2 linked regions of the Homo sapiens genome follow. The protein of the gene in region 2 interacts with the protein of the main gene of each other region in a pairwise test. Each region holds a gene or a part of one and is shown on either strand. Other genes may lie near its edges.

What was found. The genes of interacting proteins can lie anywhere in the genome.
Region 1: the proteins of ZNF837 (region 2) and TRMT2A interact in binary tests that used the Homo sapiens proteins (3 or more experiments, as listed by UniProt).

The regions. Positions count from the first base shown.
Region 1 is NC_000022.11:20,111,338-20,114,226, reverse strand, and holds the end of TRMT2A (tRNA (uracil-5-)-methyltransferase homolog A), read left to right. Parts: intron 1-418; coding exon 419-541; intron 542-665; coding exon of another isoform or gene 666-719; coding exon 720-795; intron 796-992; coding exon 993-1,109; intron 1,110-1,219; coding exon 1,220-1,316; intron 1,317-1,410; coding exon of another isoform or gene 1,411-1,432; coding exon 1,433-1,664; 3' UTR 1,665-2,352; downstream 2,353-2,889. UniProt on the Homo sapiens protein: S-adenosyl-L-methionine-dependent methyltransferase that catalyzes the formation of 5-methyl-uridine in tRNAs and some mRNAs. Mainly catalyzes the methylation of uridine at position 54 (m5U54) in cytosolic tRNAs.
Region 2 is NC_000019.10:58,370,994-58,378,030, forward strand, and holds part of ZNF837 (zinc finger protein 837), read right to left. Parts: exon of another isoform or gene 6,590-7,037; intron 3,661-6,589; exon of another isoform or gene 1,549-3,660; intron 1-1,548. UniProt on the Homo sapiens protein: May be involved in transcriptional regulation.

The DNA.
Region 1 (2,889 bases), on a different chromosome or scaffold from region 2:
ACCTGGAGCGGCCGTTTTTGGAGACAGGCCTGGCAGGACCTCCTGGAGGGCTAGGTGTGGGGGTGGGAGCTGCAGTTGGGTGATTCCAGGGGCCCCGGTGTGAGTTGTGGGAGGCAAAGCCCCCTTGCTGGGGCAGGGAAGGTACAGCCTATTGGCCTGCGGGGCCTCATGAGCCCTCAACCAAGTGGGGCAAGGAGGAGGCTGTGCTTAGCACGGGCTTGGCTTTTAAAGCCAGGGGCTGGATGAGGGCATCAGCAAGGCTGGTCCAAGGTGGGGTCAGGGAAGACGTTGGGCACCAAGGTGGGGAGTGGGCGCCGGAGGTCCCGGCAGGATGGAGGGACCAGGAATGTGGGCGTCGGGGCACCAGTGGCACCACAGGAGAGGAGCCACTGACATCCTGGGCACCGCCTGCCCCCAGGTGAACACACCCGCAGCCGAGGTGCTCTACACAGTCATCCAGGACTGGGCCCAATTGGATGCGGGGAGCATGGTGCTGGACGTGTGCTGTGGCACCGGCACCATTGGCCTGGCCCTGGCCCGGGTGAGCCCTCCTGCCCTGCTGAGGGCACCCTCTCCCCACCCCAAGACCCCCATTGACCCCAGCTCAAAGTCACCACAGCTGACTCCATCATGCCCCAGGCCCAGCTCCTCTTTGCTGCCCACAGGGCCCCATGTACTCCCCTCCCTGGGTGGGGCGACACCACGCTTTCCTGTTTCAGAAGGTAAAGAGGGTCATTGGGGTCGAGCTATGCCCAGAGGCTGTGGAGGACGCCCGGGTGAACGCCCAGGACAATGGTGAGTGGCAAGGCCGTGGGTGGGGGTGGGGATGGGGGCAGCCGCCACCCCTGCTGCAAGCCTCAGCCACAGCCAGGGCTTGGGGGCTGCCCGACAGGTAGAGCAAGTGAGCAAGCTCTTTGGCTAGGGGTTCCCCAGGGCTGGCCCTGCTGGGAGGGCATGTGGCCCTCTGACAGGCCACGGTGCCATCTCTTCAGAGTTGAGTAATGTGGAGTTCCACTGCGGGAGGGCCGAGGACCTGGTGCCCACCCTGGTGAGCAGACTGGCCTCCCAGCACCTCGTGGCCATCCTGGACCCACCCCGTGCTGGCTTGCGTGAGTGGCTTTTGCTTAAGGAGGTGGCACGGGAACGAGGACACATGGGGTGGCTCACCATGTTATGCACTCTCTGGCTGTGGGGACCCAGCTGGTGTTTGCCTCCTCAGATTCCAAGGTGATCCTGGCCATCCGGAGAGCTAAGAACCTCAGGCGGCTGCTGTACGTCTCATGCAACCCCCGGGCAGCCATGGGCAACTTTGTGGAGTGAGTGTCTGCAGGGGCCTGGGTGGGGGCTAGGCCTGCTACCAAGCCCCCAGCTCCCACAGGAGCCCCTGATTAGCCTATCGGCTGACCTTAGCGCCCCCCTTTTCCCCCCACAGCCTCTGCAGAGCCCCATCTAACCGGGTGAAGGGCATTCCCTTCCGGCCGGTCAAGGCTGTGGCAGTGGACCTGTTCCCGCAGACCCCGCACTGTGAGATGCTCATCCTGTTTGAGAGGGTGGAGCACCCCAATGGCACAGGGGTCTTGGGGCCCCACAGCCCTCCAGCTCAACCCACACCAGGACCCCCAGATAACACCCTACAAGAAACTGGGACCTTCCCCTCATCCTAGGCCCAGGACCCATTATGGGGACAGGAGCTGAAGGGCTCCCAGGGCCCCAGGGGCGGGGAAGGCATGGCTTGCTGGCCAGGATATTCAGAGGTAGGCAGCCAAAGGGCACAGAACCCTGTGCCCCACCAGGATTGGCCTGCTGCTAGGGGCCAGGGGCCCTGACCAGGAAGACAGGTGGGTTCCTGTAGCCTGTTGCCCATCCCCAGGGCCTTTGTGGACTAGCCAAGGCTGTGAGGGCCAGAATAAACAACTGCTCAACAAAGGGTGTTTCTGTGATGAGAGCCAGGGGTCTGAACACAGGGCCTGGGTGCCAGGGAAAGGGCCAAACTAGGCCTAGGCAGCTCTGCAAGCCTCTCTGCATGGCTGGGGGAGTCAGGGCAGAGCTTACTTTAAAAAAGAATGTTCGATTTGATACTTAAACTTGAGGAGAGGCAGAGAGAGGTCTGGGAACTGCACCAGCTGGGGGCATGGGGTGGAGAACACTGGGCAGAGTTGGCCCCTCTGTGGCCAGCCTGGCCCTCAGCCCAGCAGAGAGGGCATCAACCAAGGAAGGGGCCATGCTGGGGTGCTGCTCAGCTGTTACAAAGGCAGGGTCCAGCCTGCAGGGAGGCCCCAGGAGGGGATCTGGCCAGTCAAGGGTCCACAGGGTGCCAGCCTCTCACCCTCAGAATAAAGACATCAGCCATTCCCTTCTGGACAGTTTGCTTTATGTGTTCAGACAATCAAGGCTCGCCTTCCAGGCACAGCCCAGTGCCCTGGATGGCATCAGCACAGGCTCCCCTGCCCCGGCCTTGAAGCATGGCTGTGTGCACGATTCATACCCATGCTTGGCAGACGGGTGGGGGGGGGGGGGGGGCGCACAGAGACCACAAGAGTATGGCAGCACCTGCTGTGGTGGTGCCTGGGAACAGCAAGACACAGCGAGGCTCCCCAACCTTTAGGGGAACACATGTGCACGAAGCTTTGGTTCACAGGCGCATCTGGCTGGCTAAGGGCAACAGTCACAGTCAAATGACTATTCACAGCTGCAGACAGGAGGCAAGACAGAAGCAAGTGTCTAATTATAGCAATTTGAGTTGAGGGTTTCTTTTTTAAAGGTCAACAGAAGCCAACCTTGGTCACACAGGTAGTGAGGGAAGGATATGTTGTGGGCGGCCCACAGGCCAACATTGTTTTCCTGACAGAAAAAAAAAAAAAAGCGCCATCAGTACCGCCTGTAGGGGGC
Region 2 (7,037 bases):
CACTTTGGGAGGCCTAGGTGGGCAGATCACGAGGTCAGGAGATCGATACCATCCTGGCTAACACGGTGAAACCCCGTCTCTACTAAAAATACAAAAAATTAGCTGGGCGTGGTGGCGGGCGCCTGTAGTCCCAGCTACTCGGGAGGCTGCGGCAGGAGACTGGTGTGAACCCGGGAGGCGGAGCTTGCAGTGAGCCGAGATCACGCCACTGCACTCCAGCCTGGGCGACAGAACGAGACTCTGTCTCAAAAAAAAAAAAAAAAAAATTGCCGGGCATGGTGATGCATGCCTGTAGTCCCAGCTACTCAGGAGGCTAAGGCAGGAGAATCACTTGAACCTGTGAGGTGGAGGATGCAGTAAGCTGGGATTGGGCCACTGCCCTCCAGCCTGGGCGACAGAGCGAGACTCCGTCTCAAAAATAAATAAATAAATAAATATTTTCCTCATTGTGATGTGATGTGAGGTTTCTCAGCCTCACACGTGATAAGTGCACAATCCTCCTGTCCCCTCCCTAGATCTCATTGTTTCCAGAACAAAGATGGATCTGTCCAGCACAGCCTTTAGACTCTGAATCCCGGATGGCTAACATCATATGCAGAGCGTGAGATGGACACACTTGTGGCACCCTCGTAAATCACTGCTTCACTCGGCACAGGAGCTCAGATTCTTCTCCTTTTGTCCTGTGTTCCCTATTCTGTGCAAGGCAGATATCCTCTTATTTTATTTTATTTATTTTGGTGTTTTTTGAGACAGAGGCTCTCTCTGTCACCCAGGCTGCAGTGCAGTGGCGCCATCTCAGCTCACTGCAACCTCCGCCTGCTGGGTTCAAGCAATTCTCCTGCCTCAGCCTCCTGAGTAGCTGGGATTACAGGTGCCTGCCACCATGTCTGGCTAATTTTTTGTATTTTTAGTAGAGATGGGGTTTCACCATGCTGGCCAGGCTGGTCTTGAACTCCTGACCTTGTGATCTGCCCACCTCGGCCTCCCAAAGCGCTGGGATTACAGGCGTGAGCCACCGTACCTGGCCAGATATCCCTTTATTTATTTGTTTGTTTGTTTGTTTATTTTTATTTATTTAGAGACAGGGTTTCACTCTTGTTGCCCAGGCTGGAATGAAGTGGCACAATCTCAGCTCACCGCAACCTCCGCCTCCTGGGTTCAAGCAATTCTCCTGCCTAAGCCTCCTGAGTAGCTGGGATTATAGGCATTCACCACCAAGCCCGGCTAATTTTGTATTTTTTTCTTAGTAGAGCCGGGGTTTCACCATGTTCACGGGGCTGGTCTTGAACTCCTGACTTCAGGTGATCCACCCGTCTCGGCCTCCCCAAGTGCTGGGATTATAGGCGTGAGTCACCGCACCCAGCCGATATCCATTTATTAAATGTCTCAGAGGGCCGGGTGTGGTGGCTCATGCCTGTAATCCCAACACTTGGGGAGTCCGGGGGGGGCGGATCACGAGGTCAAGAGATCGAGACCATCCTTGCCAACATGGTGAGACGTCCTTGACCTGATGTCACTTTTTCTGTCTGTTTTGCAGATTTCTAACAGGCAGTTGCCCTGGGCCACCTGGTGGCCTGAAATAACTTGACCGGGAACTAAAAGGACTCACGAAGCATTTAACCAAGACTCTACATGTTGACTTTTCAGCCAAGGACACTTCAGAGCGACTGGCTGCAGTTCTCCAAAGGAAGCTGCTGCCAGTTGCCCCTGGGGGGTTATTTCCTTCTTGGACATCATGACCACAATGGCAGAAATGCATTGATGGCCAGCACTCTGGGGATGAATGTTTTTGAGTGGAAATGAAACATACCAAACTGGTTAAAGACAAAAATGCAGAGTTGGACAAGTTCTGCAGGTCACGAAAGGCCTTTGAAGCAGCCAGGCCCGGTTCCTGCTCTGCTGTATGGGAGGCTGCTGGCCTGAGCTGGAGAGCAGAAAGGCCCAGTGCCAAGGGTTCAGCAAGTACCAGTCCCAGGCCAGGCATTTGCTAATAAGCCAGGGTGACAGTAAGGACAAGGGGACTCTGGTGTGATGTGAGGTTTCTCAGCCTCACTTGTCACACGTGATAACTGCACAACCCTCCTGTCCCCTCCAGGCCTGTGTGAGACAGGAAAGGTGAGGCTGCCTCTCCCTCTGCACCTTAAAGCCACTCGGGGTCTGGGTTTTCCTGAGACTTCCCGGAGCCAGATGCAGACTCCCAAAGGCGCCGATCCTTCCTCGATCTCCCTCCCTCAAGAGTGGCACTAATCAGGTCTAATTTAGAGAAAATCCATCACCTCCCCCCACTGTGGGCTCTGCCACTTCATGCCTTGGTCTCTCCACCTATCAGCCAGCTGGAGCCTGGGACTCAAGGAGGCATGCTTGGAAGTAAGGAACTTCTCTGAGTACGAGGACATCTGGGTGGTGCTGAACACCAGCATGCTTTGCCCCGTGGCCTGGACTGTGCACAGGGCACCTAGAGTGACCTGTCACCTCCCACGCAGGTGGAAGGGTGTGAGAGAGAATGGGCACTCAGTTACAAACATCCCCTTCCCAAACACTTGTGGATCTGAGTCTGAGGCTACTCCTTCCAGGTGAGGGGTTGGCTGCTGTTGTAGCTTGTTACTCTCTTTCTGTCCCTTCTGCCCTCAGGTCTTGACCATGCAGCTTCCCAAGAACAGGATGGGGAATGATATGGGCACATGGGGAGGCAAGCAGCCACAGGCCTCACCTGCTCATGGGCACTGACCGTCCCAACAGCAGGTGGACATGAATCTAACCCACAGACACCAGAGTAGAGGGAGCTGGGCTCCCTGAGTCTGGATGGGGTTCTCACAGGCCCCCACAGGGAGACAAGGGAAGCTTTCTCCAGAATGTGGAGTACGGACTCACTGTGTGAATAAAGTAAATGAGCTGGAGGGGGCGGGACAAGATTTCAAAAAGCACCACTCATACACCCAGGACTGGCAAAGCTGCTGGCAGTAAGCTCTATCATGGGGCTCCCCCACTGCAGGTGAGCTGATTGGCCTCAGCTGGCACCATCCATGCTCAGTGTTTGCCCTGAGGACAAGAAGACATGGCAAAAAAGAGGAAAGTACAGAACACACTCCCACCTGGCTGGTGGGGATATAGATAGTGCAGCTGCTGTGGAAACCTTCAGCTCCACAGAAAGGTAAAGATGGAGCTACCACACCCCGAGTAATTCCACCCCTAGGTATCCACCCAAGAGAAATGAACTCAGGCATTCAAGCAAACACTGGCTCACAGATGTTCAGAGCAGCGCTGTTCACAGTAGCCAAAATGGAGAAACAAGCCAAGTATATAAAATGACAAATGCATAAATAAGATGTGGTATATCCATAGAATGGGATATTATTCAGCCATAAAAATGGATGAGTACTAACACATACTGCAACATGGACTTTAGAAAACATGGAAAGTAAAAGCAGTGAGTCACAAAAGACCACATATTGCATAATTCCATTTATACGATATATCCAGAATAGGCAAATCCACAGAGACAGAAAGTAGACTGGTGGTCGCCAGGGGCTGAGGGGAAAGAGTGGGGAGTAATTGCTTTACGGGTATCAAGTTTTGGGGTAATTAAAATGTTCTGGAAATTATAGTGGTGATGGTTGCACAACATAGTGAATATATTAAAACCTAAAAAATATACTAAAACCTGGCCAGGCGGTGGTTCACACTTGTAATCCCCGCACTTTGGGAGGCGAAGGTGGGAAGATTACTTGAGGCCAGTTCGAGACCAGCCTGGCCAAAATGTCGAAACCCCATCTCTGCTAAAAATACAAAAATTAGCCGGGTGTGGTGGCACATTCCTGTAGTCCCAGCTACTTGGGAGACTGAGGCAGAGAATCACTGGAACCTGGGAGGTGGAGGCTGCAGTGAGCCGAGATCGCACCACTGCACTCCAGCCTGGGCGACTGAGCAAGACTCCATCTCAAAAAAAAAAAATTATATATATATATACACACACACAAAAACATGGCCGGGCACAGTGGCTCACGCCTGTAATCCCAACACTTTAGGAGGCTGAGGCAGGTGGATCACTTGAGGTCAGGAGTTCGAGACCACCCTGGCCAACATGGTGAAACCCTGTCTATACTAAAAATATGAAAATTAGCCAGGTGTGGTGGCAGGCGCCTGTAGTCCCAGCTACTTGAGAGGCTGAGGCAGAATTGCTTGAACCTGGGAGGAGGAGGTTGCAATGAGCCGAGATCACAACACTGTACTCCAGCCTGGGCAACAGAGCGAGAATCTGTCTCAAAAAAAAAAAAAAGTATATATATATATATATATATATATATATATATATATATATAAAATTACATATATACTTAAGAGTATATATTTATATAGAATGTAAATATATATTAGAGATATATATATACTAAAACCCAACCTGAATTGTAAAATGGTTCATTTGTTACATGATTTATATATTTTTGTTTTGTTTTGTTTTGTTTTGTTTTTTTGAGACGGAGTCTCCCTCTGTCACCCAAGCTGGAGTGCAGTGGTGTGATCTCAGCTCACTGCAACCTCTGCCTCCCGCGTTCAAGCAAGTCTCCTGCCTCAGCCTCCTGAGTAGCTGGGATTACAGGCATGTGCCACCAAGAACGGCTAATTTTTGTATTTTTAGTGGAGATGGGATTTCACCATGTTGGTCAGGCTGGTCTCGAACTCCTGACCTCATGATCCGCCTGCCTCGGCCTCCCAAAGTGCTGGGATTACAGGTGTGAGCCACCTCGCCCAGCTGATTTATATCTTTTTTTTTTTTTTTAAAGCAGAATGCACCCATGCCACAGTGCTCCTTCCTGCAGCCTGTCAGGCGTCGGCCCACCCTGCAACATCCAGGATGTCATTTGAGCCCTGGTCACACGAAAGCACTGCATGGGATGAAGGTGGTTTATTTATTTATTTTTATTTTATTATTTATTTATTTTTTTGACACAGAGTCTCGTTCTGTTGCCCAGGCTGGAGTGCAGTGACACAATCTCGGCTCACTGCAACCTCTGCCTCCCAGGTTCAAGCAATTCTCCTGCCTCAGCCTGGCGAGTAGCTGGGATTACAGGTGCCTGCCCCCACGCCCAGCTAATTTTTGTATTTTCAGTAGAGATGAGGTTTCACCCTGTTGGCCTGGCTGGTCTCAAACTCCTGGCCTCAAGTGATCCCCCTGCCTCAGCTTCCCAAAGGTGCTGGGATCACAGGCACAAGCCACTGCGCCCGGCCGAAGGTGGTTTCTTTTAAGCAATACATTTGTATTGAGAAAAACAAGTTCTTGGCCGGGCGCGGTGGCTCACGCCTGTAATTCCAGCACTTTGGGAGGCCGAGGCGGGCGGATCACGAGGTCAAGAGATCGAGACCATCCTGGCTAACACGGTGAAACCCCATCTCTACTAAAAAAAATACAAAAAATTAGCCGGGTGTGGTGGCAGGCGCCTGTAGTCCCAGCTACTCCGGAGGCTGAGGCAGGAGAATGGCTTGAACCCGGGAGGCAGAGCTTGCCATAAGTCAAAATCAGGCCACTACACTCCAGCCTGGGTGACAGAGCAAGACTCTGTCTCAAAAAAAAAAAAAAAAAAAAAAAAAAAAAAAAAAAAAGAAAGAAAAGAAAAAAGGAAAAAAAAAGAGAAAAACAAGTTCTTTTAAATCTCTAGGTAAAAATAAAATAATTTCTCACACACAGCCAAGTCAACTGCATACCAGAGTACCAAGCATAGTTTCCACATCAGAGGCTTAAGCTCTGGGGTAAAAGCATTTTCTTTAACCAGGTGTCTGTTAATTCACTCATATCAAAGAGAAAACTTGGCTGGGTGTAGTGGCTTATGCCTATAATCCCAGCACTTTGTGAAGCCAAGGTGGGTGGATGGCTTGAGCCCAGGAGTTAGAGACCAGCCTGGGCAGTATGGTGAAACCCTGTCTCTATTAAAAAAAAAAAAAAAAATGGCCGGACGTGGTGACTCATGCCTGTAATCCCAACACTTTGGGAGGCCAAGGTGGGTGGATCACGAGGTCAGGAGATTGAGACCAGCCTGGCTAACATGGTGAAACCCCATCTCTACTAAAAATACAAAAAATTAGCCAGGCGAGGTGGCGCGCACCTGTAATCCCAGATACTCGGGAGGCTGAGACAGGAGAATCACTGGAATCCGGGAGGCGGAGGTTGCAGTGAGCCAAGATCGTGCCACTGCACTCCAGCCTGGGCGACAGAGCGAGACTCCGTCAAAAAAAAAAAAAAAAGGCTGGGCGCAGTGGCTCACACCAGTAATCCCAGCACTTTGGGAGGTGGGCAGATCACGAGGTCAGGAGATTGAGACCATCCTGGCTAACATGGTGAAATCCCGTCTCTACTAAAAAATAGAAAAAATTAGCCAGGTGTGGTGGTGGGCGCCTGCAGGAGAATGGTGTGAACCCGGGAGGCGGAGCTTGTAGTGAGCCGAGATCTTGCCACTGCACTCCAGCCTGGGTGACAGAACGAGACTCCATCTCAAAAAAAAAACTATCCAGGTGTGGTGGTGCAAGCCTGTAGCCCCAGCTGTCAGGAAGCTAAGGTGGGATGATCGCTTGAGCCTGGGAGATTGAGGCTGCAGTGAGCTACAATTGCACCACTGCACGCCAGCCTGGGCAACACAGTGAGACCACATCTCAAAAAAAGAAAGCAAAGAAAACTCTTCATTAGAAACTGAACATGCTCGCTGGGAATGATATTCAGGGCACAGGGCAATTCCTTACAGGGGCACACACCCAAGGGCACTGCTGCCACCACATGGGAAGTTGTGACGGGAGGGAGGAGACTGAGGGCAGGACACAAGACATGGAGACACACATTCTGGTCTGTCTGACCATGGAGCTCTGTCCACACCCAGGCTGCCTGCTGGCTCCCAACCACCACACACAGTATCTGGCGTTTCTCACAGGTGTCGGCTTCTCTCTCTCGAGTCCATCTGCTGGCCGTGGACCTGGCTATTCGGGGCAGGCCCATCCTGCCCACCTCCCCACACTCTCTCAAGCCTCTGTCTCTGAGCACTGCAGGTTTTGTA